4 linked regions of the Homo sapiens genome follow. The protein of the gene in region 3 interacts with the protein of the main gene of each other region in a biochemical or structural test. Each region holds a gene or a part of one and is shown on either strand. Other genes may lie near its edges.

What was found.
Region 1: the proteins of HNF1A (region 3) and MYOG form a complex in vitro, tested with the Homo sapiens proteins (one study listed by BioGRID).
Region 2: the proteins of HNF1A (region 3) and RNF14 form a complex in vitro, tested with the Homo sapiens proteins (one study listed by BioGRID).
Region 4: the proteins of HNF1A (region 3) and SIRT1 form a complex in vitro, tested with the Homo sapiens proteins (one study listed by BioGRID).

What each region holds. Positions count from the first base shown.
Region 1 is NC_000001.11:203,081,491-203,091,140, forward strand, and holds MYOG (myogenin), read right to left. Parts: upstream 4,523-9,650; 5' UTR 4,472-4,522; coding exon 4,001-4,471; intron 3,239-4,000; coding exon 3,157-3,238; intron 3,084-3,156; exon of another isoform or gene 2,882-3,083; intron 2,542-2,881; coding exon 2,420-2,541; 3' UTR 1,639-2,419; downstream 1-1,638. UniProt on the Homo sapiens protein: Acts as a transcriptional activator that promotes transcription of muscle-specific target genes and plays a role in muscle differentiation, cell cycle exit and muscle atrophy.
Region 2 is NC_000005.10:141,983,457-141,990,792, reverse strand, and holds the end of RNF14 (E3 ubiquitin-protein ligase RNF14), read right to left. Parts: coding exon 7,241-7,336; intron 5,991-7,240; coding exon 5,860-5,990; intron 3,061-5,859; coding exon 3,003-3,060; 3' UTR 501-3,002; downstream 1-500. UniProt on the Homo sapiens protein: E3 ubiquitin-protein ligase that plays a key role in the RNF14-RNF25 translation quality control pathway, a pathway that takes place when a ribosome has stalled during translation, and which promotes ubiquitination and degradation of translation factors on stalled ribosomes.
Region 3 is NC_000012.12:120,979,639-120,988,556, reverse strand, and holds part of HNF1A (hepatocyte nuclear factor 1-alpha), read right to left. Parts: intron 1-8,918. UniProt on the Homo sapiens protein: Transcriptional activator that regulates the tissue specific expression of multiple genes, especially in pancreatic islet cells and in liver. Binds to the inverted palindrome 5'-GTTAATNATTAAC-3'.
Region 4 is NC_000010.11:67,915,656-67,918,890, reverse strand, and holds the end of SIRT1 (NAD-dependent protein deacetylase sirtuin-1), read right to left. Parts: intron 2,627-3,235; coding exon 2,298-2,626; 3' UTR 501-2,297; downstream 1-500. UniProt on the Homo sapiens protein: NAD-dependent protein deacetylase that links transcriptional regulation directly to intracellular energetics and participates in the coordination of several separated cellular functions such as cell cycle, response to DNA damage, metabolism, apoptosis and autophagy.

The sequences.
Region 1 (9,650 bases), on a different chromosome or scaffold from region 3:
AGCCCCAGAACCTGTCCTTCAGCAGAGCTGAGTGCCTTCCTTGGCCAGCCCTTCTTATCCCAGTAAGAAGGAGGGCAAGGGATGGGCAGGTCATAGCTGCAGGGGAGAGGGTGGTTTCCACCCTGGGAGTGTGGGAGGTGCCAGGGGCAGAGGAAATGAACTTGAAGGGAGACGATCCTCCATGAATGTGTTCTGAGTATTTTCGGAGGGTAATAAGGGAGTGAATGTAGATTCCAGAGCCAAGGCACTGCAGCCCACCCAGTTGCCCTCCTCATTCCCCAGGGCAGTGAATCAGGGCTAAGAGTCATGGAAATGACCTTGGTCTTCCTCTCCAGCCCCTCCAAGGGGGAAAGACTAAACTCAGTGATACCAACTTGAAAAGAAGAAAATCCCACCAATGGGAGCAGAGTAGGCCAATTTGCAATTCCCAATAAGCCCTGCCTGACTGGTTTGGGACAAGCAGGCAGTGGGGGAGACCCTCCCTTCTGCACCCTCGCCTGAGTTCTGGGAGCCTCCAGAGGCTTCTTCTGATTCTTTTCCTTAGGCAGAGTTTCTGAAGAAACTCGGGGGGCACAGTGGTAACTCTCCTCTCCAGCAGTAAGGTCAGGAGGGTGGGTGTGGGAGAGATGGCCCAGCTGAGCCCGGAGCTGGTGCAGGGTGGTCGCTAGAGCCTCAGGCAACACTGGGTTAAGTCCGTTGTCAAGGGCCCCGAAGGATTAAGCAGGGCTGGAACGTACCATGCTCTGAATCCCTGCTTCGGTGATGATTCTGAAACTTATAATTTGCAATAAATCTGATGAACTTAGCCCCAGGCAGTTGGAATTAATAAAGTTTTCAGTAGATGTCCATGTTCCGTTTGAATTCTAGCTCCTGTTAACTCCCCAGTTAATCCTCATGTAATGTCTACCCAAAAATCTCTGTTCTCAATTTCCCACCCACCTTCTAACCTCAGGAAGCTAATGTTTGAAAATAGCACCCCAAATGAAGAGAACCCCAGCTTCTCTTCGATTGTTCTTTGTGGACCCCTTTACCCTCCCCGAGCTAAATCTGAATCTCCTTCATGCTGGGAGCTGCAAGCAGGAACCACAATCCCCTTCGGCCTGAAGGGAATGGAGGAGAATGGGGAGGGGCCATGCTATTTGGCCCGCAAGGAAATGACAGTGTCTGATCCCCCTTCCTCACCTCCCACTTCTCTACAGGGCTCCTGGTATTGTGACACCAGGGCAGAGGTGGGGACTAGGGAAGGGAAACCACAACTTCTAGCTCTGCACCTTGGCTGTGGGCTGAGCACTGGGCTTACGAGGTGCTCAGTTAACTGAAACCAGCGGACCTGTTGGGACATAACACAGAGCACAGCAGCCTGTGAGCAGTGGCTTTGAAGTATAGTCATAGCCAGTTGTCCTCCGTGTCCCACAAGGATGTCTGTGGAATCTGGTCTCCACCTAGACTGAGGTCCAGACATGCTCGATTTCCTTTATCATGGTGAAAAGAGCAGGGGTCCCCAGTGCCTAGTGACCACCAGCAAGATGAGGCCCTTAGCGCTGTGGAGCCCCACCCACTAGGGTGTGTCTGGACTGCTCAGTGGGAAGGGGCAGGGCTGTCAGTCATTTCCCTCCCTCTGCATCATCACCGACACTCTTCTGGCAACCAGTCTTTATTCATTTTTTAAAAAAGGAAATCCAAATAAGTTAGCAAAAAAAAAAAAAAAAAAAAAAAATACAAAACAATGGCAAAACCACACAATGCTTTGTTAACAAAAGAAATCACCCCCAAGAGGCCCCAACCCCTTTTCCCTGCCTGTCCCCGGCAACTTCAGCACAGGAGACCTTGGTCGGATGGCAGCTTTACAAACAACACACGAAACAAAACAAAACATAAAACCACTGGAAGGTTCCCAATATTCACTGCAAAAGTTTGGCCCCCCAGGGACTTGGGAACAGAGGGCTGTTCCTCTCCCCTTCTTCTCTCTCAATTCAGGGCAGGCCCAGCCCAGCCACTGGCATCGGGAAGAGACCAGAACAGGAGACGTGCACAGCTTGTCCAGGTCAGGGCACTGCGTCTCTCAAACCGTTTCACTTGGGGGGTGGAATTAGAGGCCGCGTTATGATAAAAAGGAAGCTCCTGAGTTTGCCCCCTGAGCTGGGGCATACACGAGGGGGCGCTCTGGTCCCCTGCTTTACCTCCCTGGAAAGGGGATGCCCTCTCCTCTAAGGAGGCAGCTGAATGAGGGCGTCCAGTCCCTTGCTGGGGGGTGGGTTAACCTTACATGGATGAGGAAGGGGATAGTCTGGCCTATGGCACCCCAGAGCTGGCTTCCTAGCATCAGGGCAGCCTGGCTTAGGAGGCCCCTGCTACAGAAGTAGTGGCATCTGTGGCCAGCTTGGGGGGCTCGCAAGGATGCCCGGCTTGGAAGACAATCTCAGTTGGGCATGGTTTCATCTGGGAAGGCCACAGACACATCTTCCACTGTGATGCTGTCCACGATGGAGGTGAGGGAGTGCAGGTTGTGGGCATCTGTAGGGTCAGCCGTGAGCAGATGATCTGTAAGGGGAGGTGGGAAGGTGGTACCTGGGTGAGCAGTGGGGGTTCTTGAGGCCCAGAATAGAGGATGGGACCCTTGGGGTGACAGAGGTTTTCCAGGACAGATGAATGACAAAGCTCCGGAGTTCTACTCCCTAGTCCCTGCCTTTCCCCATGCTCTGTGAGTGTGTGTGTGTGTGTGTGTGTGTGTGTGTGTGTGTGTATGCGCCTCTTTTCTGAACTCCCCTAGTAGGTAGGGTTTGGAAGCAGCCACTCAAGTTGGAGCAGGATGGAGCTCCCCAGAGACTGGACCTGCCCTTTGCTCGGCCCAGTTTTGCAGCACTGACTCAGCACTTCACAGGGACCCCTGGGGCAGGGACATTGTCCTCTCTGTGGAGAAGGTCAACCACCAGGCATCAGCTGGGGAGCTGCAGGAGCTACTATCACTCCTTTGCTGGTCAAGACTGCAGGGGCACACAGAACCTCCCAGCCCACCCTTTGGGCCTTGGAGTCAGCAGGTCCCTAGAGAGACCCAAGGGAAGAGGACCGGAGCAAGGAATAAGGTAAGAGGGGAGAACCTGGCCCAGGGAGGGACTGAGGGATTGGAGCCAAGGTTACCAGTCAGGCCTTACTTACCCCCTGGGTTGGCGCTGAACTCCAGTGCACTGCCCCACTCTGGACTGCAGGAGGCGCTGTGAGAGCTGCATTCGCTGGGCACCTGCAAGACAGGGCGAAGGCCCAAGGTCGGGGCACAGCCATTCTTTGATGTCTCTCTCTGCCTAGTCCCAGTGGGCAGAAGTACCTGTGGTGGGGTTGGAGGGTGGGCCACAGGCTGTGGCCTTCCAGCCCAGGCCATCCCCAACCCCAGAATCTTTGTAACTAGCTCCTCTCACACCCCAGAGGCCCTGCTTCCAGGCCTTCCTGGCTTCCATCCTGGGTGGTGGTTCTGCTCTCACAGGACACCAGCTTAAAGGGGTCCCTGGTTCTCCTGACTCTGGCGATAAGGGTGATGGAGACAGATTTTGTGGCCCAGTGAAGGTCGCTCTGTGCAGGCCTGCTGGAGTTCCAATGAGACTGAGTGGGTTTTCTCTCTGCTCAGCCACACCCAGGATGGGGGCAAAGCAGTCTTCTCTGGTGAACTTGGCCTGGCCTTTTAGGCTCTGACTCAGGCGCTGGGATTAATCCTCACCCTCACCTGGGCTGACTGTGGCCTTGCTCCTGATCTTTCTTCAGTCCTATGTTCCCCACCCCAACCCCTTCTGCACTTCCTCCCCACTGCCTTTATCTTGTCTGGAAAGAACACAGGACACAGGAGGTCAGCTGGATAGCCCAGCTCTGACCAGGGAAGGGCTCCTGCAGCCCCTCGACCCTGTCTGGCACCTGCACCAACCCTCTGAGCCCCTCTTGGGGTCTTGAGGCTGTCCAGGTGCCTCCCTCTGGCCCCGTCCCCTTGGGGCAGGGGGATGGGATGGCCACTTACCCCTGGCTGGGGCCCGCCCCCGCCCCGGTAGCGGAGGTCACGCTCCTCCTGGTTGAGGGAGCTGAGCAGGGCCTGGAGGCGCTCGATGTACTGGATGGCACTGCGCAGGATCTCCACCTTGGGCAGCCGCTGGTTGGGGTTGAGCAGGGTGCTTCTCTTCAGGGCCTCGAAGGCCTCATTCACCTTCTTGAGCCTGCGCTTCTCCCTCAGTGTGGCCGCCCGCCGCCGGTCCACGGACACCGACTTCCTCTTACACACCTTACACGCCCACGGCAGGCACTGGCCTGGACAGTGCTCGGGGGTCCCCAGCCCCTTGTCCTCAAGGGGCCCTGGGGCCTCGGGGCTCAGGGTGAGCTCCGTCCGCTCGTAGCCTGGTGGTTCGAAGCCCTGGAGGTGGACAGGCAGGTAGTTTTCCCCATCATAGAAGCGGGGTTCCTGGTAGAAGTAGGGGGATGTCTCATACAGCTCCATGGGGTCGGAAAAGGCTTGTTCCTGCCACCAGCCCCCAAGCTCCAGCAGCCCCTCACGCCAACTGCTGGGTGCCATTTAAACCCTCCCCGCTGGCATGGAACCAGAGATAAATATAGCCAACGCCACAGAAACCTGAGCCCCCTCTAAGCTGTTGCTGCACATCAAGGCGTTTACAGTGGATTAGATGTGATTCCCCTTCTTTCTCCCGCATGGCCCCCACCCCACCCTGCCAGCCTGCCCCTGGCCCAGGCGGGCTCCTGTGCACGGGTCGGGAGGCCGTCGGGTGTAATTTGATTAGTTTTCATTTCTCAGCAGCCCCTGTGGGGCAGGGGCGTTGGGGGAGGACACATTCCCCTCTCATCTGCTCCTTTCAATTACTCCTAGCTGGGCGGCCTGCCTGCTGTCTCCTTGCAGTCCCGAAGAAGCTGGTGGGTATAGGGGGAGGAGGGAACAAGGAAGGGTAGGCTTAGGCTGGAAGGGGCCTTAAGAGCCAACTTATCCATCTCCTTGCTTCCTGACAGCACCTTAACCACACTACATCAGTCGATGAGACTCTTTTAAAGACTTCCCTCCGGAAAGAATGGGACTGCTTCAGATTCTGGGCATTCATGGGCACTCAGTATCCAGGGATAAGAAGGATCAAGACTCAGAGCAGCTAACAGATTCCACTTTTGGGGTTCCCAAGCAGCTTTGAGCTGTATGTTCTCTTAGGTCTCATCTGGGGGGGTAAATTGAGGCAAGAGAAATTATTTGGGTTTTGGTTTTCTTGGCAGGGGTAAAGAGAAATTTCCTCTTTAATACAGCAGCCGTGGTCAGAGCAGAGATTAGAATTTACAGCCTACACGTTGCCACCTTCCCCAGAGCGGCAAGGTCAAGATGTCCTAAGCTCCCTGTCTCCTCCCTGTCTCACTCCGGACCATTGATCTGTCCTTCTATGTTACCTCCTCAACTCTTTTTCCAACACCAGAATTTTCCTGGCTCATTAATGTGGACGGGGGTGAAAAAGTAGAAAAAACAGAGCCCTTCAAACTCAGTTTAAATCTCCTCTCTCCTTGGCCACCGGGCTTGGTTGTTCTGCCTCTTACTGTCTGAGCCATCAATTTTACACGTATCATGCAGGTCTCAAATGTCAGGTAGAGCAGGGACTATTTAATCTTCAGGCCTCTCAGGCCATGGTCACCTCTCAGTAGGTGCCTCAGGGTCTGAGAGGACAAATTCCTTCCAATGCAGTGGGCAGACCTTAGACACTAGCAGTGAACAAGGCTCAGTCTTAGGGCTGGGGATTATAGGGACACCCCAGACAGGATCCCTGCCCTCGAACTTACCATCTGATAGACAACGGTGATCACCTCTTTCTACCTAGCCCCTGATGCCCAAATCTCCTCCGAGGCGGCTACTGTTCAGCTTCTGCTCACGTCAGGAGACAGCCCGTTCCATTGACGTGTAGCTTTGGGCTGCAATCTGCTCCCTCTATCTTTTATCCTTTGTTCCCAGTTTTTTCCTCCCCATAGACTAATGTCCTGCTCCTTATCCTACGACAGATCAAACTGACAAGTTCAAGCCAGTGGCAAGGACAATAAGAGGAAGGGGAACCCTGCTGGGGACTCATGGGAGACTTCACAGGGAACATGAGATCTGCGAGGCATGTGAAGAACCAGTGTTCCTTCCTCTCATTATTCACAGCAGGGAGCCAGGAGAATTCTGATGTCCTTTTGGGACAGGAAATGGAGGGAAGGAGGGAACATAGCTGGACAACAAAAGAACCCTAAGCATGTTGAGGGAGAGCAGTGAGGTCTTAATTCTGTTCTTGGCCTTACCAGCATGATAGAAAGTAGCAGCATAGGCCGGGCGTGGTGGCTCATGCCTGTAGTCCTAGCACTTTGGGAGGCCAAGGCGGGTGGATCACGAGGTCAGGAGTTCAAGACCAGCCTGGCCAAGATGGTGAAACCCTGTCTCTACTAAAAATACAAAAATTAGCCAGGCATGGTGGTGGGCACTGTAATCCCAGCTACTTGGGAGGCTGAGGCAGGGAATTACTTGAACTCAGGAGGAGGAGGTTGCAGTGAGCCGAGTTCGCACCACTGTACTCCAGTCTGGGTGACACAGCGAGACTCTGCCTCAAAAAAAAAAAAAAAAAAAAAAAAAAAAAGTAGCAGCATAGGTACTGTGTGGGTTCTAAACTTTGCTTTCCCCTGACCAGCTGGGCTGAAGAAGAGTCTCTATTTCTAACACATCCCCTGCCAAACAAAAAAGAAAAAAAAAGCCTCAGTTTACCCTCCAGTCCTATGAGCCCTGAGAAAAGAAGTCATGTTGAAGCCACTATAGGAACCCCCATATTTGCATCTTTTGTTATTCCAGGATCCAGTGTGACTTACCTCTAAATAATGTGTCTTCTTCCTCTAAAATGGAGGCAGAGCTGGCTTGCTCTATGGTGGTTTCCAGACCTTACTGTCTAGTTGGTGAGCATGGGTTGACATGTGAAAGCTGGATTACAAGACAAGGGAGAGCTATGTTGATTCTACAGCAAACATGGGGGCTTTAATCAATTGCAAACCAGTAGTTTCTTCAAAAGCGTTTTGGGAATTTTTGGGAAGCCAAAACTGCTGAAGACTGGTGCTCTGCAGAAGGCTTGGGGAGCATGCTGGGCCAGCTCTTGGAGAACTGGTAGGATTCAGATGAGGAGAGGGGAGCAGGGGAAGGGGACGTTGGGTAGGCTGTTTGTATGGAGCTTGGGGTTCAGGTAAGGGGGTGATTTGAGACAAACTTGCACAGAGGGGAGGAGGCCCAGCTGGGCAGGGAAGGACTTGAGAGCTGAGGCAAGGAGACCGCACAGAACAGTGTGATGGTCATCCAGGAATGAGATGATGAAGGTCTGAACAACCTCTTCAGAGGCAGGAGGATGGATTCGACTGGGAGAGGGTGCATGTTTCAGGCTAGCAAAGGATGGCGAGTATGCAAGCAATAGGGGAATGGCTGTATTAAATGATAGGGTACTTGGCACATGGATACACCTGGTAAATGTTATTCCCTTTTCTTGCTTTGTCTTCTCTTCTACTTCTGTGTGCCCTGCAGGGGACCACAGCAGCAGGAATGGAGGAGGGAAAACCTGGCTCCACCCCGAATGTGTTTATTCATTCATTCATTTTTTTTTCTATCAAGTACTGTGCATTCAGCACCTTGTGCCAGGTGCTGGGGTTACTAAGACATGCCCTCTCTGCCTTCAGCATGTTCACTGATGAGTAAGGAGAATGAGTACACAAAGTCATCTAACCAAGGTAGAAACAGCAGGCTAGAGAAAGTGCTGACGTAATCCAGAGAAGGAATTTATTAATTCACTCCTTCATCTGCTCAACACATATTTACTGAGAACCCACTCTGTGTCAGTTCCCTGGCTGGGACCTGACCTGGGGCAAGAGCAGTGCCTAGACTCGGCGCTTGCCTGCAGAAGCTCTGTTGGGCATGCATTTGGCCTTGTGTCTGGATGATGTTTGCCTCTGACCAAACATGAGGGCAGAGCCGGGAGGTTAGGGTGACCTTGTGTGCCTGGTTTCTGTGAATCCCTGTCTCTGTGTGTGTTTGTGTATGTCTGAGTACAGTGGTTTGGGGACCACGTCAAAGCCCGATGTGGGGCACAGACCCTCTTGGTCTGAGCTGATAGAGTGACCCAGGTGTCTTTGACCTGTCCATACCCTGATGGGGGGGATTGGCCCTGTACCCATCTTGTTCTTCTCTCAGAGCCGAGCTGTGGAGACGCCTCATCTAGAGGCTTGGTCCTCCTCCCCTTGTACACCCCTCCACCCCCACAAGCTGCCCTCTGATGGATGGGAACACATTGGTGCCAAGCACAGAACAGCCTTTGTGCTCCGCCACCAGCGGCAATCCATCAGCTCCAACCTGACAGCAGGGCGTCCGGCCCTAATCCCCATCCCTGCTGGCTTGGGCACACAGGGCCCCCTGCCCTGACTGTAGCCTCCTCCTCCAGCAGTCCTGCGCCCTCCAGAGGAAGCCCTTATCCCCTACTGGGGCTCCAGGGCCACATTGTTGGCTCCCCAACCCTGACTGTTTCAACTTGATTCTGTCTATTTGCACGCTGGGCTGATGTCATTTGCATGGTAGCGGCTGGATTTCAAAATGCTCAGAAATCCCCTTCACCTGCTCCCTGCTCCTTACTACCCCTTCTGCTGCACACCCAGTCACAGCCCTCTGGCCTTCAGCATCTTCTAGTCCCTGCTGATTTTGCAGGTGGGCTGACCTGGGCTGCCATGGTGCTTGGCTAAAATCAAAGCAATTTTTCCATTCTGGATTCTCATGTGCTTGGGAATAGAGGAGCAAGAAGGAGAAGGGTCTGGAAGGGTGGGGGCCTCTGGCTGCTCCAAACAGGTCTCACCATATATTTTCCTAGGCTGGGTCTCTGGGTATTATTGATGAGGATGAGGTCGGGGGTGGGGGGGGGTGGGGGGGGGTGGCAAATGCTTGTGCATTTCAATAGGACATAGATGCATAAAAATTACATGCAAATCAGCATTGATTATTTGTGGGGCAGTAGCTTTGCAGCAAGATGAGAACAGATCACAGAATCACAGAAAGTCAGAGCTGCAAGGCAGTCTAGAATCCACTAGTCCACCTTCTTCCTCCACATATGGGGAAATGGAGGCCCAGAGAAGGGAAGTGACTTGCCCAAGCGTACAGAGGATGAGTGTCAGAAGTGTGAAGGGTGCCTGTTCTGAATCCCAGAGCCTCCTCTCCCTCTGTGAGGCTGGCAGGTGAGGAAGGGTAAGTAGTAAGCAGCAAGTGAGTAGATATTTCCCGGTGGGCCTGGGGCCACAAGTAGGCAGACAGTGAGGGGTTGGAGAGTTTGAATGGAGGGTTTAGAGAGACATCAGGAGAGGTACTGCTGGAGAGATGAAAAGAAGATACAGGAGAGGTGTGAGAGAGAGAGTGGGCTGGAGGTGCCAGGCAGAGGCCTGAGGGATTGAGACAGGGGAGATTTGGAGGCAGATGCCAGGATTGAGATGTGAGGAGGAAGGGAGGGTCCCCCCTCCACCAGGCCTCTGAAGCCACACGTTGTTTCCATGGAGGACTGAGCATCGGATGACCACTGGGAAATCCCGTCCCTGCCTGGAATCTGATGCTCAGAGCCAGGATCATTCTTCAAGAATTTCTGGCTTTAGGGTGTGGG
Region 2 (7,336 bases), on a different chromosome or scaffold from region 3:
GGGAGATTCCATCTCAAATAAATAAATAAATAAGTTATTTGATAGCTTATTTTCATTTATCAGCTCTAGACCCAAACCTTTTATATAAAAATGAAGAGACACTGACTATTCAAACTCCCCCAAAAACACCCAGGAGGCCAGGCACTGTGGCTCATGCCTGTAAATCCCAACACTTTGGCAGGCTGAGGCAGGAGCATTACTTGAGCTCAGGAGTTCACAACCTGGGCAATATAGCGAGACCTTATTTCTACTAAAAAGAAAAAAAAAAAATTAGCTGGGCATGGTGCTATGTGCCTGCAGTCGCAGCTACTCAGGAGGCTGAGGTGGGAGGATTGCTTGAGACCAGATCTCAAGGCTGCCGTGAGCTATGATCGCACCACTGCACTCCAGCCTGGGTGACAGTGAGACCCTGTCTCAAAAAGAAAAAAGGCCCATGAAATTCATACTAATTTATGGCAAATCTCAACCCACTCATAAAAAAAGGCTTTCATGAAATTAAGGTAGGTACAAAACTCTTTATTCTATCATATATTTTGCTGACACCACAACCTTCCACAAACCCATTTGTTTTACAGGGCATTTGGGGAGTTACCCAAATCTTTCATTTTACTGAGACAAAAGTACTCTACCAAAACTATACATCTTAAAATTAGCTCATAACTCATGCTTCAAAAGTATAACTTTATAAGCCCTATTTTCTTTGTTAAAATTGAGTGATGAAGACTTTGTACCTAAGAATCACTAAGGTGACCAAACAAATTTTTGAGACTAAACACCAAATACCTGTGTTGTTTTTAATATCATAAATGGGAAAAAAGGCTCCCATTTCTTTCATAAAACTGTATTATAAAGGCTTCTTTCCTACTTCTATGACATCATCAACAATGTATAACAGCTTAACATAAAATGATCTCTAGAAAATATCAAGTAGCTCACGAACTATAGAGCTTCTGAGTAGCTCTTTCTGAATAAATCTGAATTGAACTCTTTGATCACAGAAATCACTCTTCTCAGGTATATACTGTAGAACAAATCATTTTAATTTCCATTTCTTATCTTTAATTTATTCTTTAACCTCAATTTTTTTTTTTTTTTTTTTTGAGAAGGAGTCTCGCTCTGTCGCTCAGGCTGGAGTGCAGTGGCGCTATCTCGGCTCACTGCAAGCTCCACCTCCCAGGTTCATGCCATTCTCCTGCCTCAGCCTCCTGAGTAGCTGGGACTACAGGCGCCTGCCACCATGCCCAGCTAATTTTTTGTATTTTTAGTAGAGACGGGGTTTCACCGTGTTAGCCATGATGGTCTCGAACTCCTGACCTCGTGATCCGCCCGCCTAGGCCTCCCAAAGTGCTGGGATTACAGGCGTGAGCCACTGTGCCCAGCAAATTAACCTCAATTTTTACACAAAATGTCCTGAATGGAAGACCATGAAACTATCTGGTTTAAACAAAATATGGGCCCTAAAACCTAAGCTCAGTCACAAGCCCAGGTAAAAGAGATGCTATTCTGTGACCTTTTTTTTCTTACTTTAAGAATATGTTATATGCCGAACAGTTTTAAAATGTGATTAGTTGCCTTGGTGACAGAACAAATAGCAGCAACTCTGTTCTAATTATAAGATGATTTTTAAATTTATTTTTATTTTAAGACTAAGCATCCTCTTTGACAATCCAAAAACATAATCCTTGCTCACTCTGGACACACACACCTAAAACAGTTAAAAGTGATTCCTCAATTTGCAATAACAAAGTAGGAAAAAAAGAATACGTTCTCAAGCTGTAGTTCAATTTTTCTGTCCTCTTTTCCAAAAAATGTTACTTTGCTACCAAGCCTCCCACCAATGATAAGGAAAGACAATTTTTCAAAAAGCCAACAAAACCCAGAAAAAGGAACAGGTATCAATTCAAAATTATCACCCAGAACACTGCTGTTGCAAAGAAAGAGTATGAAGCCAAATTCCCATAGCTTGTTAGAGAAGATCTTTAAAAATAATTCAGAAAGTTAGGACTGGAACTACTGTAGTATAGACAGGTTATACTGTCACTATATGCATATACAGTGGTAAATGCAGATATAATTCAAGAACATTCAGCTTGGGAATATATTAAGCTTTCTCCTATTCCAGCAGAGGAAATAAAAACATGTGTTCCTGGAATTAATATTAAAATCATCCTTACAAACAGAAGGTAGGGCAAAGGTAAAGAGAGAGAATGTGGAACAAAAGTAGCAAAGACAAGCCATTTTGAATCTAGGTTCTAACACCCAGGAAGGCTGAATAGAACTTAAATTCTTCTGAGCCAGTATCACTAAATTCTAGATTTGGCCTGAAACCAGTGGACCATATACACCACTAATAAATATCAAGTGCCCCACAGTGTTTGTGGTATTAAAACATATATTTATATTATAAATTTCCATTCTGAAAAGCAGATCAAAATGACACTGGACCATCCAGTCAGTTACGGAGTAATGGGCTTCCTCCAAAGAGAACTGACTTGGCAGAAATTTAGGTTGGTAGGAATGTGATTAACATGGAGTAAACGAGATCAGGTTCTCAGTATAATTTTCATAAGGCTTCTACCCACTCCAGTTGTAAGGAATAGTACTGAGGGAACTCCAACAGAATGTCTTAGAAGGATGCTTCTCAGAGACAAAGGGTCTCTAAGTTTAACTCTTGACCCCTCTTCTCCTTACCTAAAGCTTGGGGAAGAAAATAAATATTTAATTTTTAACTATTCAGAGCTTTGGGCACATTATAATATTTAATATTCTGTAGTTTAATTTTCTGAACCTTTGGCTTATAAATTTTTCTCAACTTACATTTAAAAATGTATCAATGCACCTTCTTCAGTAGTACCACATGAAAATATAAACCTCGTTCTTCCATATCTTCTACGCAGGAAGAGTGAATGAATAGTACCCTAAATATCCCGCAAAGTTACTTTGTGTACTTGACGGAAGATTAGGGAAAAACAATCCACTTCCATATCTTGAGCAGTAGTTAACTAGTCTTCTACCTCATCTTCCCAAATATCGTCGTCAACATCCACAGCATAAAACAGCCTGGAAGCATTAAAAAAGGTACATTTTTATACACTTGAACGAAACAATATAAATTGCCTCTCCGCTGAAAAATATTTTTTGTACTCTTATAACATCTTTGTACATCTTTTCTTCTCCTTTAATCATTGCACTGAGGAGGGCTGAAATATGGGTCCCTCTGAACAATCTACCCTAAAGTTAGTTAAGAATGGCCCATTTAAGGTGGATGAGTACTTGTCCAGCTCCATTCCCACTGGCCTAGAAGATTTAATTGGCTGTCTTTTGGCCTTAAGTCCCTTGGCCATAGGGGTCCCACTGAGGGCCTAGATGGAGGCGAGGCAGGTTAGCCACACCACTCCAGCAATGATATGGGACAAAATAAGTTTGACCATCAATGCTGCCTCTGGCAAATCTCAGCCAAAAAGGGGAAAATGAGAAATAAAAATGATACCCTAAGCCCCACAACCAACTGAACAGACCCTCTCCTGGCCAAGGGAACCCCAGAGAAACCCTGAAAACAGTTCCCGGCCATGATGGGATGGGAGGCCAGACACACCTGGTCATACCCCCCTCCCTCACTGACCACCATTAGGCTTTCTTTCCCTAAGGGTTCAAACCAACCCTTTGGGAAGACTTGCTCCACCGCTGATATCAACCAACTGCCTGATGCTGCCCCTCCCTTCTGCAGTTTTGGCACAAAAACCGACCAGCATTTCTTCCTGCCAATAGACCACTGACCATGGAGTGGTTCTAGCCAGTCTATGGAGGATGTGGACTGAGGTTTTCGTGTTCTCTGCTTCACCTTTTGATATCAGAGAACTCCCCCAGAGATCATGCTAATGCCACCATTTTTTGAACATGGGTCCCCTGAAGGGTAATGAAGCTCAACTGCACATGCAGCGTTTTTCTCCTTTCATAAATATTCATGACTCCTCCTATACCTTACTGAATATGTATATCTGGCTATCTTGTAGGGCATAAATCCCTGTCTTCCTCTTCCCATCCTTAGAGTGTCTGTTTCCAGCTTCTGGCTGAAGGCTATGCTTCCCAACCTGTCATAACAGCCACCTTGCCGGCTTCAACTCTTTATGAGAAATAAAGCTCTCCTTTCCAAATTAAAACAAACGAACAAAACAGTCCTTTTAGAATCCAGACAAATTCTCCAGGGCCAAGGATAAACAATAATGAGGGATAGGTATCACAAAACTGATACTCAGCGTATACAATACATGGAATAAGGCAAGACTGGGGAAGTCAGGCAATTTAAACTGAACCCTTTCAAGACACTATTATTACTACTACATGCTCATCACTCCATTCTATCTTCACAGTCCTTGCACCCTCCATTTGTAGAATGTTTTGTAGCTGTCAATTTGTCTTCCTTTCCTTATGTTATCTACAACTTATGCAATTTCCAACACTAGATTTCCAATAGTTCATGGCAGGGCTTGTTTCTTCAATTTCTCTTACAGTTTCACAATACCAATGTGTTTACTTAACAGACACCTCTTAACAAAGATCATCAACTGATGCTGAAAGTGGAGAGCTCTTGGAGAACAGGATATTCACATTGTGCCAAGGAATCACCCCACAGATTACTTCCTAATAACAAAATGGAAAACTTGCCTTTACAATAAAGCAAACTGTAGAAATGAGCACCACACTAATGAGGGACATCATGGACCTCTTGATGTGATCCAATACGGAATACACATCACTCCTCATGAAGTATCAGCATAAAAAATGTTATTCTAAATCGAATCAAGCTTCAGTCTAGACCTAACTTCCAGTTTATAGCAAATAAGAGAAACAAGCTAAAGGACACCATGGACAAATAAAAGTCTAGAAGGTAAGACGTTATATAAGATAACTGACCTGGACTCTTCAAAAAGTGAATGTTTTGCTGGGTGTGGTGGCTCACGCCTGTAATCCCAGCACTTTGGGAGGCCGAGGCGGGCAGCTCACGAGGTCAGGAGATCGAGACCATCCTGGCTAACACGGTGAAACCCCGTCTCTACTAAAAATACAAAAAAATTAGCCGGGCGTGGTGGCAGGCGCCTGTAGTCCCAGCTACTCAGGAGGCTGAGGCAGAATGGCATGAACCCGGGAGGCGGAGCTTGCAGTGAGCCGAGACGGCACCACTGCACTCCAGCCTGGGCGACAGAGCGAGACTCTGACTCAACAAAAAAAAAAGTGAATGTTCACAAAACACACACAAAAAAAAGGTGGGCCAAAGCTTTTCTGTATTAAGAGACTAAAGAGATAGAACCAAATACAATGACTGAACTTGTTCAGATTCTGGTTCAATCAAATAGCTTTAAAAGATATTTTCAGAAATAATTAGGAAGTTTCAAATATGTTTGTTTACTAGATAATAGTATGCCACTATCATTAAGTTTTTTAAAAGTACTGTCATTATGTAGAAGCATTTCCTTATCTTAGGAGAAACGTGGAAATATTTAGAGTTGAAGCATTATCATAACTCCAACTTCATGTAGTTCAGTAAAAATGTTAAGGGAACAAATATGGCAAAGTACTATCAACTGTTAATTTGGGTGGAAAGTATCCTACTATTCATAGTCCTATCCTTTCAAATTTTCTGTGTTTGAAAACTTTCACTATAAAAACTTCCAGATGGTGTATAAGTCTCATTATAAAACTCATTTTTGAGAAAATAATATGAAAATTCCTTTATAGGGGAAAACATGTAAGAGAATTCTCTAAATAAGTCCAAGTACTTAAATAAAACACTGGATTTGTGGTCTGCAAATCAAGTACCAAAAATTGCTGGTGAGCCTGAGGAATTCTGTGTATACATACCGGTTAAAACATGGTGAACCAGGGTCATTGAAATGTTTGTAAGGGTTTGCTCTAGAGAGAGAACCCATGCAAATCCAACAGAAATATTGCATACAGCCAGTACATGTCATCTTGTTACATCCGTCTAATTTCTGGTGGGAAGGATAGAAAGAGAAAAATATCAAGGCTGTAAAAGCAGAAGAGACAGCACATGCCAAAATGATTCAGTACAACATTGTCTTGGTCCTCTCCCTTTTCTTATGCAGGGTTGAGATATCAATGTAACACACTGATGACTATGTAATTCTTTCTATTTTGCATTAGAAGTAAAATACAGAAAATAGCTAGTGTTACTACAATTAGTTACTTGGCACAATCTCTTCTGACAAGCAGTAGATAAAAATCACACAAGTATAACTGGAAAATGTAGTTAGATTAATATTAAAATGTTTGGATGTAACGTGTGGGTTTTTAATTTTTACAGAAATCTAAGTAAATATTTGGTACCAAGTCCTCCACTCTGTCATAGGGCTAAGGTATGTCAAAAGTGATTATATGGCCAGGTGTGGTGGCTCATGCCTGTAATCCCAGCACTTTGGGAAGCCAAGGTGGGCGAGTCATTTGAGGTCAGGAGTTCGAGACCAGCCTGGCCAACATGGTGAAACCCTGTCTCTACTAAAAATACAAAAATTAGCCAGGTGTGGTGGCTGGCGCCTGTAATCCCAGCTACTCGGGAGGCTGAGGCATGAAAATTCCTTGAACCTGGGAGGCGGGGATTGCAGTTAGCTGAGATTGCACTACCGCACTCCAGCCTGGGCAAGAGAGACTCAGTATCAAAAAAAAAAAAAAAAAAGTGATTACATATAGTCCTAGTTTCCTTAACTGGAGCCCACTATGTTCAGTTCAGACATAACAGATTAGAACAATAGAATCAAATGCTAAGATGTATTTTGATTTTAAAACATATTAAGATTTTTGTCAAGAAGCAATATATCTGTCTAATTATTTTGACTCAAATTAATTCCTGAGTGTATCTTAAACAGGTGTGCAGCATTCCAGGATAAATAGTTCTGAGAGATCAGATTTGATTTTTTTTAATCACATAGATGAGGTAAGAGTTGACCATAGCTCTAGTATGCCCTCCTTACAACCCATTCAATTTTGAGGTGGATACAATGTGAGAACAATGGTCACTGTAAGCAAATACTTTGAAAAGGGAAGTCTACAAACATTTAAGGTCGATAACAAGATCTAATAGTGAAATTTCCACCTTCCACGTAAGAAGGTGTAATAATACCAGCATGTGTTTTGTAAGTCATAAAATTGACTAGTAAGGCTTCTTAAGGTAATCATAACATCCTTGCAAGTCTGATGGCCTCCAAGTCTGTCCCAAAACATTTACCTCTATGGGAGTTCCACAACATGGGCAGCTCTTTGAGTTCTTCTCTAGCCACTCCTTACTTTCCATCTCTTCCAGTGCCTTCTGAATCACTCTCTT
Region 3 (8,918 bases):
GAACAGATAAAGGTTTAGAAACATGGATACACAGACACACAACACAGATGAAGATATGTGGATGGATGGATGGGTGAATGGATGAATGGATGAATGGGTGGATGGACGGATGGATGGATGGGTGGGTGGATGGATGGATGGGCGAATGGGTGGATGGATGGATGAATTGGTGGATAGATGGATGGACTGGTGGATGGATGGTAGGGTAGAGTGGATGGACAGATAGATGGGTGGATGGATGATGGATGGATGGATGGTTGGATGAATGGATGGATGGATTGGTGGGTGGGTGGGTGGATGGATGATGGATGGATGGATGGTTGGATGAATGGATGGATGGATTGGTGGGTGGGTGGGTAGATGGATGATGGATGGATGGATGGTTGGATGAATGGATGGATGGATTGGTGGGTGGGTGGGTGGATGGATGATGGATGGATGGATGGTTGGATGAATGGATGGATGGATTGGTGGGTGGGTGGGTGGATGGATGATGGATGGATGGATGGTTGGATGAATGGATGGATGGATTGGTGGGTGGGTGGGTAGATGGATGATGGATGGATGGACGAAGGAGACCTGCTGGAAAAAGGAAAGCATTAAATCTGAAAACAAGGAAAGAAATATGGATTCTCCAATTTTACACCTACTCCAGCCTGGGTGACAGAACAAGACCCTGTCTCAAAAAAAAGAAAAGAAAAGAAAAAAAGTGCATTTACTGCCAGTGATTAGGGTGCAAACACGTAGATAGATAGATAGATAGATAGATAGATAGATAGATAGATAGATAGATCAACTTTGTGACTTTTTGCCCTAAAGGCTGTCTTAGAACTGAATCCTTTCAGGTGGGTGGGACTCTGCTTGTCCTGTGACCTTGGACAAGGAATAAAATGATGCAAATTCTGTGGGCCTCAGTGGCTTCTCTCTCTCTGTATATATATATATGTGTATATATATATATATATATTTTTAAAAATGCTTCCTGAAAATCTGCACCCTTGGCTGTGGCCAGGCCTGTTTCCCTGCAGCACCAGAACAGGAGGCTGGTTTTTCTTTTCTTTTTCTTTTTTTTTTTTTTTTTTGAGATGGAGTCTCACTCTGTCACCCAGGCTCGAGTGCAGTGGCGCGATCTCGGCTCACTGCAAGTTCCACCTCCTGGGTTCATGCCGTTCTCCTGCCTCAGCCTCCCAAGTAGCTGGGCCTACAGGCACCCGCCACCACGCCCGGCTAATTTTTTTGTATTTTTAGTAGAGACGGGGTTTCACCGTGTTAGCCAGGATGGTCTCGATCTCCTGATCTTGTGATCTGCCTGCCTCGGCCTCCCAAAGTGCTGGGATTACTGGCGTGAGCCACCGCGCCCGGCCGCGGCTGGTTTTTCAACAGAGTCTCAGGTGACAGGGTTGACATTCAGAGGCCTCATAGTACCAAAAATGCATGTGAACACTGGAATCCTACTCTGTGGGTTGAGATTCTCCCACCAGAGAGACTCAAAGGGACCTGATGCCACCTGTGAGTCATGTCTCTGCTGTGGGTCTCCCTGTGGGGGAACAGAAGGGATCAGACTGCCTGAGCCATATAAATTTTCTCTCCTCCTCTCCTGCTCTGTCTCAATCCCTGCCTCTTTCTCTCTCCCTCTCCTGAACTTATATTACCAATATGTCACAGATAGGCTGGGTGCAGTGACTCACACCTGTAATCCCAGCACTTTGGGAGGCCAAGGTGGGCGGGTCTTTTGAGGTTAGGAGTTCAAGACCAGCCTGGCCAACATGGAGAAAACCATCTCTACGAAAAAAATAATAAAAATAAAAAATAAGTCAGATATTGTGGCAGGTGCCTGTAATCCCGGCTACTCGGGAGGCTGAGGCAGGAGGATTGCTTGAACCCGGGAGGCAGAGGTTGCAGTGAGCCGAGATCGCGCCACTGCATTCCAGCCTGGGCAACAGAGTGAGACTCCGTCTCAAAAAACAAACAAACAAACAAAAAGTTACAGATAAATACAGCTCAATACAGCAGCACTGAAACAGGCAGACTGGGATTTGAACTTGGGTCTGCGTGATTCCAAAGCCTGTGCTTTCCCCTGCCTCGCTGAGCAATTCGCTTCTAGAATTTGTGGCTTTTAATATTGGCACAGGTGACAAATGGCACAAGTAGAAGGCAATTCCTTGCCACGTTGCTTGCCATAGCAAAAGATTGGAAGCCACCAAGGAGCCCAGCAAAAGGATACTGATTAACTAAATGGAGGTGCATCTGTTCAATGCAACCACTGAAAAAACCCCGCTGAGGAAGCTCTGTGTGCCCAGGTGGAGCAGAGTTTATCTGGTGTGTCTGCTGTGCTGCTACTTATGAATAATTTGAAGTGAGGTAAAAGAGGATTTCTACATATTTGTGCACGTGTAAAATACCGGAGGGCACGCAAGGAACTGGGGACTCTGGTTCCTTCCAGAGGAGAACGGGGTGCTGGGGATGGGAGTGAGAAGGACAGTTTTCTCTGTTGTCCTTGTGTACTTTGTAAATTACATAATATATACTATATATGCATACATGATATTTATTTTTATTTAGTTTTTTTTTTTGAGACAAAGCCTTGCTCTGTGGCCAGGCTGGAGTGCAGTGGCGCGAGCTCAGCTCACTGCAACCTCTGATTCCCAGGTTCAAGCGATTCTCCTGCCTCAGCCTCCCGAGTAGCTGGGATTACAGGTGTGCGCTACCACACCCAGCTAATTTTTATATTTTTAGTAGAGACAGGGTTTCACCATGTTGGCCAGGCTGGTCTCAAACTCCCGACTTCAGGTGATCCATCTGCCTTGGCCTCCCAAAGTGCTGGGATTACAGGTGTGAGCCACCGTGCCCAGCCAATATTTATTTTTATTTATTTATTTTTCTTTTTAGAGGCTACTTGCTCTGTCTCCCAGGCTGGAGCACAGTGGCGTGATCATAGCTCACTGTAGCCTCAAACTCCTGGGCTCAATTGGTTCTCCCACCTCGGACTCCCAAGTACTTGGGACCACAGGCACATGCCAACATGCCCAGCTAATTTTTGTACTTTTTCTTCTTTTTTCTATTTTTTTTTTTTCATAGAGACAGGGTCTTGCTATGTTGGCCAGGCTGGTCTCAAACTCCTGGGCTCAAGCGATCCTCCCACCTTGGCATATATAATATTTAAAACTGAATTGTAAACTGGGTATGGTGGCTCATGGTGGTAATCCCAGCTCTTTGAAAGGCCGAGGTGGGAGGATCACTTGAGCCCTGCAGTTCAAGACCAGCCTGGACAACATAGTGAGACTCTGTCTCTATAAAAAAAAAAATAAATTAGCCAGGCATGGTGGTGCACACCTGTAGTCCCAGCTCCTCAGGAGGCTAAGGTGGGAGGATTCCTTGGGCCCAGGAGTTTGAGACCAGCCTGGACAACATAGTGGGACCCTGTTTCTACAAAAAATAGAAAAATTAGCTAAGTGTGGTGGCACAAGCCTGTAGTCCCAGCTACTTAGAAGGCTGAGACAAGAGGATCTCTTGAGCCCGAGAGGTCGGGGCTGCAATGAGCTGTGATCGCGCCACTGCACTCCAGCCTTGGCGACAGAGTGAAATCCTGTCTCAAAAAAAAAAAAAAAAAAGTCTGAGAACTCATGTTTCTTGAGGATTTACTGTGAGCCAGGCACCGTGCTGAGGACTGGCCACTTACATCTTATAACCCTAGGAAGTAGACGGTGTGCCCATTTTGCAGAGGAGAAAACTGAGGCTCAGAAAGGTGCAGTCACTTGTGCAAGGTGATCTAGTTGGGACTCAAAAATATTTCATGTTGCCAGGACCACCCCACCCCCGCAGGCCTCTCCCCAGCTTCTCTCTCTCCCTTCTTTCCGGGGCTCCTAGGATCCTCTCTCCTTCATCTCCCTGCTTTGCTGAGTGCCAGTCAGAGCTCAGAAGGAAGGGCAGTACAAAGTCCAGCCTGGTGCTCTGTGGCAAACATGTTTATCTGATCCTAGAGCCAGGCTGCCTGATGCCTCCCCTCCCCCATCTGCAGCCATCACCCTCCTGTGCCATGTCCTCCTGTGTCCTCCCTTCCTCCCTCCTTCCCTTCTCTCTCCCACAAAGAGAATAGGGTCAGTCTTCCTCTCACCTCTTGAGAGCCTCTCCTGGGCTCAAACCAAAGATTTTCTATGTGCCCCTGTCCATCTGATTCCATGTCTGTCTGTTTCTTTCTCTCTCTCTCTCTCTCATTCTCATTCTCTCATGCCAGGTCAAATTTAAGCTGAACTTGAAAATAAAACAAAGGCCAGCCACCCTGCACAAATACATGTGCAACCCTTAGAAACCGAAGACAGGCTTTTGAATGTGAAAATGGAAAGCAAACTGTTAAAGTGAGCTGATACGAACGTTCCACTTTTAAACAATTCCTAGTAGAGTTGGGCAAAAAATCCACAACAAAAAAGTGAATTTTAAATGCCAGTTAGGAGTCAGAGAACCAAGAGGGCATGTCTTTCCCTTTTCTGGGAGAAGCCACCTGTGCCACTTTTTTCTAGAACCTACTGAATCGATGTCTCTCTCTCCCTACCCCCCACTCCCTTGCTATCACTCTCTCTCTTCTGTCTCTCTGTGTGTCTCTTACACAAACACACACACACACACACACACACACACACACAGAGTCTTCAAGGGCCTGACTATTTTTGAGGGCAGATTCTCCAACTGTCCTAGCTCAGAACTAAGAGGCCAAGGCTGGGCGTGGTGGCTCATGCCTGTAATCCCCACACTTTGGGAGGCCGAGGCGGGTGGATCACATGAGGTCAGGAGTTAGAGACCACCCTGGCCAACACAGTGAAACCCTGTCTCTACTAAAAATACAAAAATTAGCTGGGTGTGGTGTCGTATGCCTGTGGTCCCAGCTACTCAGGAGGCTGAGGCAGGAGGATCACTTGAACCCGGGAGGCGGAGGTTGCAATGAGCCAAGACTGCGCCACTGCACTCCACCCCCAGCAACAGAGTGAGACTCCATCTCAAAAAAAAAAAAAGAAAGAAAGAAAAAGGAAAGAACTAAGAGGACAAGTCTCCAGGCATCTCCTGCTTTGACTCTAATGGGTTTGAGAGTCAAACCAATGTGGGTTCAAATCCCACCACTGTGACCTAGCCACGCGTGCTCTTGCATGACCCACATCTGCCCTGTAACGTGGGGTAAATCCACCCCTACCTCACACTGCTACTGGGAAAATTAAATGAGCTTCAAATAGGGAGGATGAACTTAGGGCAATGCCTGGTGCACAGTAAGTGCTGAATTTGTGGAATAATATTGTCATCATCATCATCTTAACAATGCAGCCCTGGAGACCCTTGGCCCCACACAGCAGAGCCCAGGAGAAGTGAAGACCCGCCCACATCTTCCTCCTCTCTCTCCTACCCTTTCCAGGGTCAATCGGATGTCCAAGGCTTTGAGCCTCTTGCCCTCTGGCCCCTGGGGTTTCAGGGCATGCAAGGTTGTGGTATTCATCTCCACATCTGGAGGGGAGCTGACTTCTCAGTGTGGGGGCTTTAGACCTGGCCTTGATTCTTTGCTTAACCTCCGTGTGCCTCAGTTTCCGCATCTGTGAAATGGGGCTAATGATATTTCAGACTTCAGAGATGGGGAGGAGGAAAAAATGAGCTTAGCGCATTTTGTAAGCCCTTTGTGAACTCCAAAGCACTGTATGGAAGTGAGTTGATGGTCAACTTAAACAGCAGGAATGACTGGGGAGGGGAAAGTGTGACCTCGAGGTTGCTGTATGGAGCGTGAGGTAGGAGGACCCAGGTCCAAGTCCTGGCTTGCCTTCAGTCATTTGGAAGAGTTTCGTTCGGTAAGGCACTGCCTCTCTCAGCCTTAATTTGCTCATCTGTAAAATGGGATCACTAATAATAACTGCTGTATATTGCAGTTACTACATGTTTACTCTACAAGTGCCATGCCATTTAACCCTGTGGACAAGGGCTATTGTCATCTCTACCCTGCAGACGAAACTGAGGCTCAGAAGTATAAAATCACCTGCTCAAGCTAGAAAGGGGCAGAGCTAGGATTAGGATGCAGGCAGTCTGGCTTTTGTTGGGGACGTCAGATCCTCTGTCCCCCCCCCCTCCTGCCGTGGCTACTGTTTTCCTGAGTCTCAGTGCCCTGATGCTGCCTGATGGGCAGGATCAGAATACTTCAAGATTGGGGTTTGAAGGCTGAGGGCAGTGGCTCTGAGTGCCTGTAATCCCAGCACTTTGGGAGGCCGAGGCGGGCGGATCACCTGAGGTCAGGAGTTTGAGACCAGCCTGGCCAACATAGTGAAACCCCATCTCTACTAAAATACAAAAAATCAGCCAGGCGTGGTGGTGCATGCCTGTAATCCCAGCTACTCGGGAGGCTGAGGCAGGAGAATGGCGTGAACCCAGGAGGCAGAGCTTGCAGTGAGCCGAGATCGCGCCATGCACTCCAGCCGGGCCGACAGAGTGAGACTCCGTCTCAAAAATAACAACAACAACAACAAAAAAGAAACACGCTGGGGTTTGAGCTGATCAGGGACAGAAAGGACCCGGGAGGACACCCAGGAAGGAACTCTGGGTCCCAGTTTCTCCCTTGGCCACGTCTCAGGCTGCTGGGCCCTGACCAACAGGGCAGCAGATATCTTCAGGGCCTCAGACAATCCCAGTCACTCACTCATTCCTGCTGTGCATCAGCCACTGGGCAGGATGTGGGTACAAGTGGTAAATAAGGCAACACGGGCCTTGTCCTTGAAGAGCTTCTATTTTCATGGCAGGAGATAGAAAACAAACAAATCAGATGATCACAAGTCTTGACAGGGAACCAGAGAAAGTGAACAACAGTAGTGGAAGAGAGTGACGGGGGTGGGGCCCCCTTTTGGATGGAGCAATCAGGGAGCTGAAGGAGAAGGAATCGGCCATGGGAAGATCTGGAAAGAGGTTCTGAGCAGCAGGAAGAGCACGTGCAAAGGCCCTGGGGTGGGAATTGGCTTGGGGTACTGAGGAACAGCAAAGCCAAAATGACTGCAGCAAAGGCCGAGAGGAAGAGAAAGACCTGGGAAGAGATCCAGGAATTTGGTGGGGTGGAGGGAGGGGAACGAAACCAAGGCAGGGAGTTTGGACTTTATTCCTTGGCCAGGGAGGGAAACTGAGGCAGAAGGAGAGGAACAGACTTTCCCAAGGTCACTCAGGGAGCTAAGGGGGAGATCTGAAGAAAGAGCTCAGGTTCCTGCTGTGGCCACCAACATGGGGCACCCCAGGGAGGCCTGGGACCCAGGACCCACCCCGGCTTCTTCCCAGACACTGACTTCTCCCGGGAAACAGCTTCTACTAGACATTCTGCCTCTGTACCGTCTTCCCAGCCTCAACCTCCCCAATGGCCCAGGCCTTCAATAGGGGTCCCCCGCCCCTCTCTCCCTGGCTCCTTTCCTGACCCTGACGCTGGAGGCCCCACTTTTTTCACTCAGGGCGTTTTCCGATCCCTTTTGTTACCTGAACAATAAGTAACCCAGGTAGTTAGTTATAAACTCTGCAGGAACAAGGAGCTGGTTGATAATTTATAGCAACATCTCAAATTTAAATGGAAAGTAAATAGCATGCTGTTAGCATTAAAGAAAACCCAATCGGGGCAGGCGGGAAGCACTCCAGCCTCCTTGCAAGCTTGGGGCGCCTCATTCTCTCCCGTGCCCCTTCTCCCAGCTGGGTCTGAGCCCCCGCCCCCCTGGCTCCTCCGTTCTGCTTCTCCCAGCTTCTCTGTCCATCTCCCCCAATGGCCTCTCTCTACACTCTCTGCCTCAGCTTCCAGGTCTCTGCTGGTCCCTAGGAAGCACTTTGACCTCTGCTTCCCCTTCAAATGCTGTGGATCAAGCCTCCCCAACCCCACCATCCCACCAAAGGGGGCTGCTGACCGAGAGAGCTCACTCAGCCAGGTAAGAAAGCATCCCCTGCCCCCACCCTCACCCCAAAGCCCCCAGTCCCATCTGGGGCCCTGGGCAGGTCAGGCCCAGCCCCACCCCGTCAGGTTGCCTTCGCCCTGGGTCTGGGATGCCTGACTCTTTGCCCCTCCCCTGCAGCTCTGGAGTCCTTTGCCCTCCTCTTCCTGCCAAGTCAGGGGGCCCTGACTGCTCCCCTGCCCCCTGTCCAGGCCCTCGGGAGGCTCCCTGAGGCCTCTGGGAAAGCAGGAATCCACCAGCCCTCCCCCACCCCAGCTGGGATCAGGACCTTGGACAGAAAAGAGATGGGCCCCTTTGGAGCATCTTTGGGGCTCGGTCTCTCTCTGACTCCCTGGCCACCCCCTGCAGGCCTCTGGTCCCCGGTCATAGCAATTGAGAGCACCGAACAGAGTAGGTTTGGGGCCTCAGTTTGGTGAACTTAGTCTAGCTCCTTCCCGGCTCTAAGCCCCAGTTTCCCCATTTGTGAAGCAGAGTCACCAATAGCTTCTGCCCAGGACTCCTCACCATGAAGGGAAATTATTCCTGTGAAACCTCAGCACAGCGCCCAGGAAGTAGTGAACCTCCTCAAGCAGGCGCTGTAGGGTGGAGGTCAGGGAGCCGCTGGGGAGGGGTGGCCCCTGTAGCCCCCAGGCCATCCTTCCTTCTCCCCCACACCCCCATCCCCCACCCCCACTAGGTGGGAGGTGGGTTGGCCCAGATCTTTCCAGGCCACCATTCCTACAAGTTAATGATCACAGACCTTATCAGAGCCTTTTGCCATTTATAAATTTATAAAACAAAAGAGAAATAATAAAGCACATGGGTAATTAGTAACTAGGTCAGCTCTGCTGAGGAGAGGGGAGGCATCGAGCTCAGGACCCACCCAGTTCTCCAGGAGACGGGGAGTCCGCCAGCGGATGGGGATGTAGAACGGGCAGCCTCTAATGGCGCCTGCTGGTGAGGTGGGGTGCCTGTGGCCATACAGGAAAGGGGAGCAGCTCC
Region 4 (3,235 bases), on a different chromosome or scaffold from region 3:
TCAGTAATACTTTCGCCCTCAAAACCTTTAATGGCTTAAGTAGGTTCTCAGGTCAGCCTCAGAAAGTTGATACCAAATGTGGTCTGCAGTCTTCAGACTTGAAAGACCTAGCATCCCAGAACAGATTTTCAGTTAACCCAGCCTTTGCATCAGATGGATTTTCACTATCCACCACTTCCTGTTCTCTCTCAAATCCCAAACTCCTGGTCCTTTATCATAGGACATGTCACATCCTTCTTAGGCCCTGCCCTGCCTTTTCTCCATGTTTTACTTGCTCAGGCCTCTAGCCTAGAATGGCTGAAATAGTTTTTGAAATGCTTGGTGGTGATGCATCACCTGCTACGATCAGCACCATCAGGGTTTTGCAAGTACTGGTCTGGTGAGACTAATGTAATAAACCAAATGAAGAAATGTAGTATGAGAAAGAAAGCATCTAATACTATAGCATTCGAAGCTGTACAAATTCTGTAAGACTTAAAAATTATATACCTTAAACAATGTAAGTTAACAGAAAAAAGTCAAATGACAATTTTAATAGACTTTAAAACAGTGTACAAGTAAAAAACACTGGTTTTGTATTTCAAAAGTTGAAGGAAGATATCCAGTCATTAAACAGTCTACAAAACATATGCCAGTAAATTACATAAAAGACTATGTACAATATAAAAAGAGCTGAAAACAGTCTTCACTGTAAAAATAATTTAAAACAAACTTTTCAATTTAAAATATCATCTATAGCACACAAACATCATGCAAATGGAAAACTAAATATACTGCATTCTTTAGTGTAGCCAAATAAATTCAGATTGAGACATCTTATAAGTAGGGAAATGGCCATTCAATACGATTTTTTTCTCTGGCAGTAATGGTCCTAGCTGGGTGTTTTATGCATAAAGAACAGCTATATTTCAAACCCTTTTTATTGTAATAAATACTAAAGCAACAGAGGAATACTTTATTAATTTAGGAGTGATGTTCAAAAATGGTCTGAAAAATAAATGCTTACTGTGCAATTTCATAAAGTATGAACTTCTTGAAAGACTAGAAGCTTTTGCAGCTGAGAAAGTTGATCTCTAGTTTTAAGGCAGGCTAAGCTTTTAAATAAAGATAAATTATAAGAACTAGTTTCATTCATTAACTATTCTGCTATTACAAGTTACATCATCATGTTCATCTCCATAATACTAGGGCTAGCAGTTTGGTATTTAACACCAAATCCTCCCAATGGGAGACATGTACTTTCTGGCTGAATTACAATTAACATCTTATTACTTTGGAACTGTATAATCAGGGGCCTGTTGCTCTCCTCATTAATGGAAAACAGCAGTCCAAAATATTACACTCTCCCCAGTAGAAGTACCATTATTATAGATTCAGAAAGGCTTTGCATATTCACATTTTGGCAGTTTAATACTTGTGGAAAAGATCAATGCAAGCTCTACCACAGTGATAGGTATTTAAACAACAATGGCAAATATTTCAAAACTAAGGGGATCCAGGCAGGCACTAATGTTTCTAAAGCAACTGAAACATTTCCAAAGCATTTATTTGTTTTTCAGGTTAGTTTTATGAGCCAATATAGACATTGCTACATGTCCACAGGAAGTACAAAAGCCATCTTCATTTGAACGTAAATACAATAATCCTGAAATTCTTAGCACCAAGTATTACTTTTAAAAGTAAAGACAACCGAGTGCTCTCCCCACATATTGTTGACTTCCTTCTACTCACACTGCATGTCATTTGAGATTTTAAAAAGTTAGCTGCCACAGTTTTGGAAAATGCCAGTGTTTAAAAATAATTGTGTTAAAGAATCAAAAGTTTAGCGTAACAGATTTTGAGTACTTCAAACCATTCAATGTTACAAAGAAAAGTGAAAATACCATTCTTTGGTCTAGATTAGCTGTTCCCTTTACATTAATTTAACATTCCGATGGCTTTTTGAAAACTTTAAAAATGTTGAAACTCACTAGACAAAACAAAAAAAATTATATATACACATATGAATTTATCATACAAATGAACCTTTAAAAGAAAGTTAGTCTTGACCAACAGCTGATTGAAGATACTTAGTACCTTTTTTTTTTTAAAAAAAAAAAAGTTAGTGTTGAGTTTGTACAAGTACAGAAATAATGAAGTTAAAAATTATCCATGAAAAACAATCTATTTTACCAACCTATAAATATTACACCTTTCTGGTTTCCTTGCTCTATCGAGTTCACAAGTAAACATTCATTTTGACATGCTAAAGTTCCTAATGCTGGTGGAACAATTCCTGTACCTGCACAATTATTACACTATGATTTGTTTGATGGATAGTTCATGTCTGTTACTTCCTGTTTCACAGATATAGCTTCATTAATTGCCTCTTGATCATCTCCATCAGTCCCAAATCCAGCTCCTCCAGCTCTCTCTGGAACATCAGGCTCATCTTCTAAGCCATTGTAGAATTCTTCAATTTCACTTTCATCCTCCATGGGTTCTTCTAAACTTGGACTCTGGCATGTCCCACTATCACTGTTACTGCCACAAGAACTAGAGGATAAGACGTCATCTTCAGAGTCTGAATATACCTCAGCGCCATGGAAAATGTAACGATTTGGTGGCAAAAACAGATACTGATTACCTGAAATACAGTAATAAAAATGTTACTTTCAGTTTTCTAACACTAACTCAGTCTGAGCAGTCTGGAATGAAGTGTGGGTTCCAGCTCTGCCTTTATTATAAGTGTCCTTATGAAAGACTACTATTAGTGTTTAAAAACAACTGGGAGGCATGGTGTGCCTGCAGTCCCAGCTACTCAGGAGGCTGAGGCAGGTGGACTGCTTGAGCCCAGGAGTTCAAGGGCCAGCCTAGGCAACAGAGTGAGGCCCTGTCTCTTAAAAATTAATTAATTAAATAAATACAAGCAATACACTTAGTCCTGGGTTCAAATCTTAGTTCTGCCATTTATTGTATCTTTGTAAGTGTACCTCTGTGCCTCAATTTCCTCATCTAGAATATGAAATAAATTTTCACAACCCTATGAAGGAGGGAAGTGTGAAAAATGTAGAAAACCATATTCAATAAAGGTTATTTCACCAATTATTTTAAAAAGATTTGATGAAAATGAAGTATCCAGCCCAGCCTACATTAGATACCCAATTTGTGTTAAGTAGCTTCTCTAAAGTACACAGGCTTTTAAAGCATCTTCATTAACTATTTTAACTTTTTTCTGATTATAAACCTAAAATAT